2 linked regions of the Homo sapiens genome follow. The protein of the gene in region 1 purifies or fractionates together with the protein of each later gene. This does not show direct contact. Each region holds a gene or a part of one and is shown on either strand. Other genes may lie near its edges. The genes, in order: PRKCH and AKAP13.

Region 1 (3,824 bases):
TGGAGCTCAACTAATGTGGTTACAGAACTGACCCAAATTACATGTACTTTATTTTCAACATAAAGGCGTCCAGTACATGTTTATCCTCAATTCAAAGGCATCCAGCACAGTGCCTTAAATGCACACACAGAAAAGACTTTCTCAACATGATCCATTACAACATTGCACCTGCAGCCTGGGCGTGGCACCCGGCTTTCATAAGAATAACATGGAGGCAAAATAGATCTGCAGAGGTTTGGAAAACCTTCCTTCTCCTCTCCCAGCCCTAAGAGAAAGACCCGACCGCTTCATCCTGCAACTTGAAGATGCCAACAGAAACACAATTGATATAATAACAGGCTGGGAATGGCATTTACTTGACCCAAAACTCTGGTGTGGCCTGACTGTATGAAGGGGAAACATCACCTGCCCTCAACTAAAGTTACGAAGTGCTAGAAATACTTGCTATTTGGCAAACAAAGTTATCAAGGGCTATTGAAATTGACCCCAAAATAACTACTGCATAAGAGAGGGTCTATTGCATAAGAGAGGGTAACAGCCTGACAGAACTCTGGTTCTTTGATTCTTTAGATTAGAACAATACAAATTTTAGTTAGAGCTAGTGGTTTACTGGTGGGAAGTACTGAAAAGACTCAAGCAGCACATGAAACAAGCTGGTTTGCAATACATCAGAAGCTAGCTGGGTAAGCCAAACTTACAGATTTTAGGATCCCTGTGGCATCTTCATGGAGCCAGGTAGGGTAGACCACCTCATCATTCAGTATGGCCTCAAAGAGGTCATCTTCGTTCTCTGCCTCAAAAGGCGCGTGACCACAGAGCATCTCATAGAGCAACACGCCCATTGCCCACCAGTCTACTGCAGGCCCGTACAGCATTTCCTGGAGGATCTGTGCAAAGGGGGCAGCGTGAGAAGGTGGTTCATACATCAGATTAACAAATGTGTTCTTCATAACTAGGGAAATTGATGCATTAGGAAATATCAAAGTTTTTTTAAAAAAGTCTCCTGTGCTAGCAAGCGTATTTCATTCCATTTCTACAGAGTGGTCTGTTTTCCCTGTGGTCAACTCAGAGGTGCCTTCTCATCTAGGTGAGCAAATATTTATGGCCTGATTGGGCCACTGTGATGGGCTCGTGCAGATCCCAAACAGAAAGGGTTCTGGAAATATATCAGTCTGGAAAAAAAAGGGGACTGGGTTCACTCACTCATACGGGAAGGATTCAAGGATTCAAGAGCCTTTCTTTAGTTCTGCTAAATGACGCTGAAATTAAATCACTAAGTAGAGACAAAAAGGAAAATAAATAGCCATGAATGGCGTACACTTTGTCTTCATTTAGGGCTAAAGCCCAAAGCAACTGCAAAGTTTACATATATATATATATTTTTTTTTATTATACTTTAAGTTTTAGGGTACATGCGCACATTGTGCAGGTTAGTTACATATGTATACATGTGCCATGCTGGTGCGCTGCACCCACTAACTCGTCATCTAGCATTAGGTATATCTCCCAATGCTATCCCTCCCCCCTCCCCCCACCCCACCACAGTCCCCAGAGTGTGATATTCCCCTTCCTGTGTCCATGTGATCTCATCGTTCAATTCCCACCTATGAGTGAGAATATGCGGTGTTTGGTTTTTTGTTCTTGCGATAGTTTACTGAGAATGATGATTTCCAATTTCATCCATGTCCCTACAAAGGACATGAACTCACCATTTTTCATGGCTGCATAGTATTCCATGGTGTATATGTGCCACATTTTCTTAATCCAGTCTATCATTGTTGGACATTTGGGTTGGTTCCAAGTCTTTGCTATTGTGAATAATGCCGCAATAAACATACGTGTGCATGTGTCTTTATAGCAGCATGATTTTCTTTTTTAACTCAAATTCTTATTAGAGGGACTTAGGCCATTTTCAGCCATCATTCACCCAATGAGCCATAAATGAGTCTAGAGGTGTCGGCTCTAGACACCTTTCAATGCTGCCTCCAAAGCTGCAGTGCATAAAAGCAGCCAGTGGCATTTCTGGTCAGAGTTACTGGAGAGCTCAGATTTCAGAGCTGCATCAAGCAGCTGCACTCACCTCTGGAGCGATATAGTCTGGCGTGCCACAGAATGTGGCCGTGGTGACACCATTGCAAATCCCCTCCTTGCACATTCCGAAGTCTGCCAGTTTACAGTGACCCTCGTGGTCCAACAGGACATTGTCCAGTTTCAGATCTCTGAAAGATACAAAGAGCAGCACGAGATAGGGCAGCCAGACCCCAAACCATCCACCTCTCAGAATGGGCACACACACACACACACACACACACACACACACGTGCGGCCACATGCGGCCGCATGAGCTTCCTGTACACACGTCAAAAGGAACAAACTTCTCTGTGCTATCTGGATGACACATTTAGATCAAGTCTCAGAACTTGCCTCATGGCTCCAAGATGATGCGCCCATTAAGAATGGGCTGACCACAGGAAAATGTAGGCTGTCCTGTAAAAACGGAGGGCAGAATGTGGCTTTTCTAGGCTTTCCACTTACCTCATACTCAGCCTATACCCCATCCTCCACTCTAGCACCCATCTCTACCCATCGGAGTCAGAATGAACACCCATAGGGGAGGTGGCCACTGTGTGCCCGGGGTGGTGACAGGCACTAGGAGTACAGCTGATCTTCATCTGCAAGGAACTCACAGTGTAATGGGAGACAAATATTTGCTAGGCTAGAAGCTCCATGACGGCGGGGATTGTGTTTATGCGGTTCACCATTATGCCTGGCGCCATTATGCCTGGCATAATGTACTTAAGAAATACTTGTCGGCTGGGTGCCTGTAATCCCAACACTTTGGGAGGCTGAGGCAGGCAGATTGCTTGAGTTCAGGAGTTTGAAACTAGCCTGGACAACATGGGCAACATCCCAACCTACGAAAAATACAAAAATTAGTTGGGCATGGTGGCATGCACCTGTAGTCCCACATACTTGGGAGGCTGAGGTGGGAGGATTACTTGAGCCCAGGAGGTTGAGGCTGCAGTGAGCTGAGAGTGCATCACTGAACTCCAGCCTGGGCGACAGGGTGAGACCCTGTCTCTAAAATGAAAAGAGAAGAAAGAAATACTTTGTGTGTGTGTGTGTGTGTGTGTGTGTGTGTAAAACAAATAGATATATATTTCATATACAGACAGACACACACACACACATGGACAGGATAGACCAGGAGGGGTGGGGAGGGGGAACACACCAATTGCTGTATCATCCTAGTGGCACGATGAAGGTATGAACCAAGTGCTACGAGAGAAACATAAGAGAGAACAATTCCTTCTAGTGGGAGGAGAGAGAGACAGCCTCACAGCAGAAGCAGAAATTGAGCTGGGTCTGATAGCATGAGTCAGAGTCTCCCAGGCAGAGAAGGGGAGTGAGAAGGCCGCCATGGACAGGCGGATGGGGCAGGGACACGGCAGCAAGCCCAGCAGTATGGCTGTGCAGGTGGACTCAGAGAACCCTGGGTATGGTGGAGGAGGCTGAGGGGCGGGCAGCACAGGACAGAGGAGTGCTGGGGCCATGAAAAATCTCAGGGCTACAGAGGAAAGTTAAGTCCTTCAAACCATGAAGGGTCCTGAATGTCACACGAAGGAATTTTGATTTTTACATATTAGGCAAAAGGAACTCATTGATGCTCCCTCATTAAGGGAGTAACAGATTCCTGGCTGGACAAGAAAAGATCAGTTGGGGGAGGCTGAAACCGTCCAGGGAAGAGATGTTAAGACCTGAACCAGGACAGTGATGAATGGAATGGAAAATAAGGAGTTAGTCAGGGGAAAGGAAGCAGGGCT
Region 2 (3,824 bases), on another chromosome or scaffold:
TAGAGTTCTCAAATCTTTCCTTTGTACTTTCCCCTCCCTGAAGCACATTCTTCCAAACAGTGGCATCTGGGTTCATGAGCCCATGTTCCATTTCCCCTGCAGTGTCTGGGGTACTGACATTTGTTGTTGAAATGCCTCCCAGTTCACCTCCAGAGGAATACTGGGCTGTGCCTGGCTCCATGACCAAGTCTCTCTGAAGCACAGCATCTCCACTGCTCAGGGACTCCTGGTCTGTGGGCATTCCAGAAGATTTTGTTCCAGTTTCTTCATTTCTGTTTCCACAGGACGAAAGGCCTTCCGTGCCCTTTACTCCACAATCAGGCAAGCTCTGAAGGCAGCTGTCTTGATCAGATACAGTTCCAGAGTCCACAATAGGTGCTGGCTCCACCTCTTCCCCTTTTCTTTCCACGCCTTTATTTTTCTTCCTACAGGAACGGTCTGTATTCTCCTCCTCAACTATGCTTGACAAATCACAGGGACTTTCAGTCTGTGCAACAGGGCTCCCTGGGCAGCACTGAGTGCTCTCAGTCTCTTCAGAAGAAGAAAGTCGCTGAGGGTCCGTGGGCTCCGGTGCACAGGGAAGAAACTGGCCATCTGTCTCTGGGGCACTGGAAGGATCCTGTGCTGTCATCATTAAGGGCATAAGACTGTCCATCTGCTTGAGGTTTGTTTTCTAGGAGGAAATGAAATACACTTTTAAAAAACTGCCTGTAGGAGAAGATGTCACTGACACCTCTGAGCAAAAATTCTGTTGGACAGAACTCACTTCTATTCTAGCTCTTCTAAGGTCACATGATAAGCGAATCTAAAAGAATACAAATAAATTTCCTCTTATTTCTGATATTACTTTCCTTTCATATCTGCCTATATACTGGGATGTTCAAAATAGATTAGGATATATGAAATATCTATTTTCTAAATTTTGAACTTATTTTAGGAAGTAGATGAAAACTGAGTCTCGCCGGGCATGGTGGCTCATGCCTGTAATCCCAGCACTTTGGGAGGCTGAGGCAGGCAGATCACCTGAGGTCAGGAGTTCGAGACCAGCCTCAACATGGAGAAACCCTGTCTCTACTAAAAATACAAAATTAGCTGGGCGTAGTGGTGCATGCCTGTAATCTCAGCTACTTGGGAGGCTGAGGCAGGAGAATTGCTTGTACCCGGGAGGCGGAGGTTGCAGTGAGCCGAGACAGCACCACTGCACTCCAGCCTGGGCAATAAGAGCAAAACTCCGTCTTAAAAAAAATAAAAATAAAAGAGTCTCAAAAACCTGATTTTTAAAAAGCTCAGTGAATATCTTCAATTGAGCTGCTAACATTAAGGTGGGCTCTCTCATTCTGAGGCCAGGCTGAAGTGCAGTGGTGTGATCACAGCTCACCGCAGCCTTGAACTCCTGGGCTCAAGTGACCCTGCCGCCTCAGCCTCTTCAGTAGCTAGGACTACAGGTGTGCACCATTGCACCTGACTAATTGTTTTATTTTTTGTAGAGACGGGGTCTCACTATGTTGCCCAGGCTGTTCTCCAACACCTGAGCCTATGGGATCCTCCTACCTTGGTCTCCCAAAGTGCTGGGATTATAGGGCCTACACCACTGTGTCCCACCTATATTTTTCATTGTCTTCAGAAGGGCAGAGTCTACTTACACCCTGCCTCATATATACAAGTAAAAACAAATCCTAGCTCTTTTCCATTACAAGGTGCAGCCAATGTGCCTGTGCCCTAAATACTTACTGAGTTCAGTGTCCTTTAATCCCCAAAATATGTTCCAACCAATCTAACTTAACCATCGAGTTATGGGGTCATAATTTCAGGAACAGTGGCATGGCAGATATTCTTTCACCTTTTGATAAAATCAGAACATATTAAATATAAAATAAATGAGAACATATACCTATATACTGTCAGAGTATATTATGGATACTATATGTAATCTCAAAAATGGATTTTGCAACTTTAAAGTATTTAAAAAATATAAACAGATATAACCAACAGCATGGGAATGATTAAGAAAATCAAGGTTCATAAAACTGATGGAAGAAATACTAGCCATTATTAACTATGAGGACCATATTGCAATTAGAAAAAAATTATTAATCTAAGTTTATAAATATGCAAAAATCCCATGTGCATGCAGCAAGGTTTAAAATGGAGAAAAACAAATACAGGTGATCTTTAGTGATTTTACCTTTATATCAAAATTTCAAAAATTCTTATAAAAATATTTTCTCAACACCTAAAATCTATTTTTCCAAACATCTGGTTTGCTCGCCATTCATTCATTACCTGATCTACTGCAATAATATGCATACCTACTGCCATCCATCCTCTCATTCACCTACTCACTCAGTGAATATATTGGGCACTTACAGGGTTCCATCATCAGACCATTCCTATCTACCTACTGAGCCTATTGTAAAAGTTTATATGTACAAGTGTAAAATGTGTCATGCTTGTTAAAGTCTTTCTAGTAGAGTGTACAAGCAAAATGGACTTTCACTAAAAGCTTCTGTGTTAGGCTCCTTAAGAGTATTCAAAATTAGCTTATTTCCAGTCCTGCTGAGAGTACGACAGTCTCCTAAAAATCAGGAAATGAAGTCATTAAATTTAATAAATGGTAAACATTATAAAACAGAAATCTGGCGAAACAAGTAGTGTTGCCTAAAGAAAGTAGCACATGTATGTTCCCACAGTTTTAATTTCTCGTATTTGCCTGCCAACCATTTCCATATCTTGGCAGGTAGCTTTGGTACCTGCAAAACTATATTTTCAAGTGAACTACCATTCACCTAGTAAAAAGAGCTCTAAGGAAAAACCTGATTGCCTAGAAGTCCATTCAGAGGAAAATGAAATGTCACGTGCTCTGGAACAAACACAATTCTAAAACACAAAAGTGGGAGCATCACATAACCCTATGGAATTTCTTGGCTTGCTGGTCTCAAATAATGCATGCTCCCAAAGAAGCCTCTGGCATTGAGCTGACCTTAAATGAAATTACTGTCCAGTGGTTTCCAAATCAAATCAGCTCTGAAATAAACTGGGTGGAAAAATTACCTAAACACAGCCTTTCAGATGTTATGCCCAAGAGAGATGTACACATATGACGTTTATGTTATTCGTAATAAATGCTAACAGGGAGTCTGTAATGTTTTTATGTCTGGCAACAACTTTATCTTGAAGACTTGAGTGGATTATAAAATCTTTTCTGTTTTTTTTAGCTATCTTTGTACCATACAACTATTGATTTAAATATAGTAACACTATATTTAAATGGTACATATCATCGCCACTAAAATAGTTGTAAAAATACTCCTGATTAAATTTGGTTCTTGTTCTTTGGCAACAATCTCAGAAACTGTTGGTTCTTTCATTTTGTAAAGTTAAGCCAAACACAGACAAATATCCTTTTATGCCAGAAATTTAGTTCTAGTTGTTGCATATTTCTGTACCTGAAATGTGTGTCTTCCATTATTCCCAAAACCAATGAAAAAAACCTCTCAGTCCCCCTACGGCTACAACCTTAATGCTAGCTCTGATCTGTAAGTGGTAACATTTAATACTGCTAATACTGCTTTACAGGTCTCAGAATCTTTGGGGAAAGTCCTTCTTTTTCTGTTTTTGAGACAAGGTCTTGCTCTGTCACCCCGGCAGGAGTGCAGTGGTGTCATCTCAGCTCACTGCAACCTCTGCCTCCCAGGCTCACATGATCTGCCTGCCTCAGACCCCCAAGTAGCTGGGACTATAGGCGTACGCCACCATGCCCAGCTAACTTCTGTAGAGCCAGAGTTTCTCCATGTTGCCCAGGCTGGTCTCAAACTCCTGAGCTC

What was found.
Region 2: the proteins of PRKCH (region 1) and AKAP13 purify together in Homo sapiens (affinity purification with western blotting; one study listed by BioGRID). This does not show direct contact.

Annotation. Positions count from the first base shown.
Region 1 is NC_000014.9:61,527,470-61,531,293, reverse strand, and holds part of PRKCH (protein kinase C eta type), read right to left. Parts: intron 2,488-3,824; coding exon of another isoform or gene 2,451-2,487; exon of another isoform or gene 2,436-2,450; intron 2,220-2,435; coding exon 2,081-2,219; intron 888-2,080; coding exon 699-887; intron 1-698. UniProt on the Homo sapiens protein: Calcium-independent, phospholipid- and diacylglycerol (DAG)-dependent serine/threonine-protein kinase that is involved in the regulation of cell differentiation in keratinocytes and pre-B cell receptor, mediates regulation of epithelial tight junction integrity and foam cell formation, and is required for glioblastoma proliferation and apoptosis prevention in MCF-7 cells.
Region 2 is NC_000015.10:85,575,779-85,579,602, reverse strand, and holds part of AKAP13 (A-kinase anchor protein 13), read right to left. Parts: intron 674-3,824; coding exon 1-673. UniProt on the Homo sapiens protein: Scaffold protein that plays an important role in assembling signaling complexes downstream of several types of G protein-coupled receptors.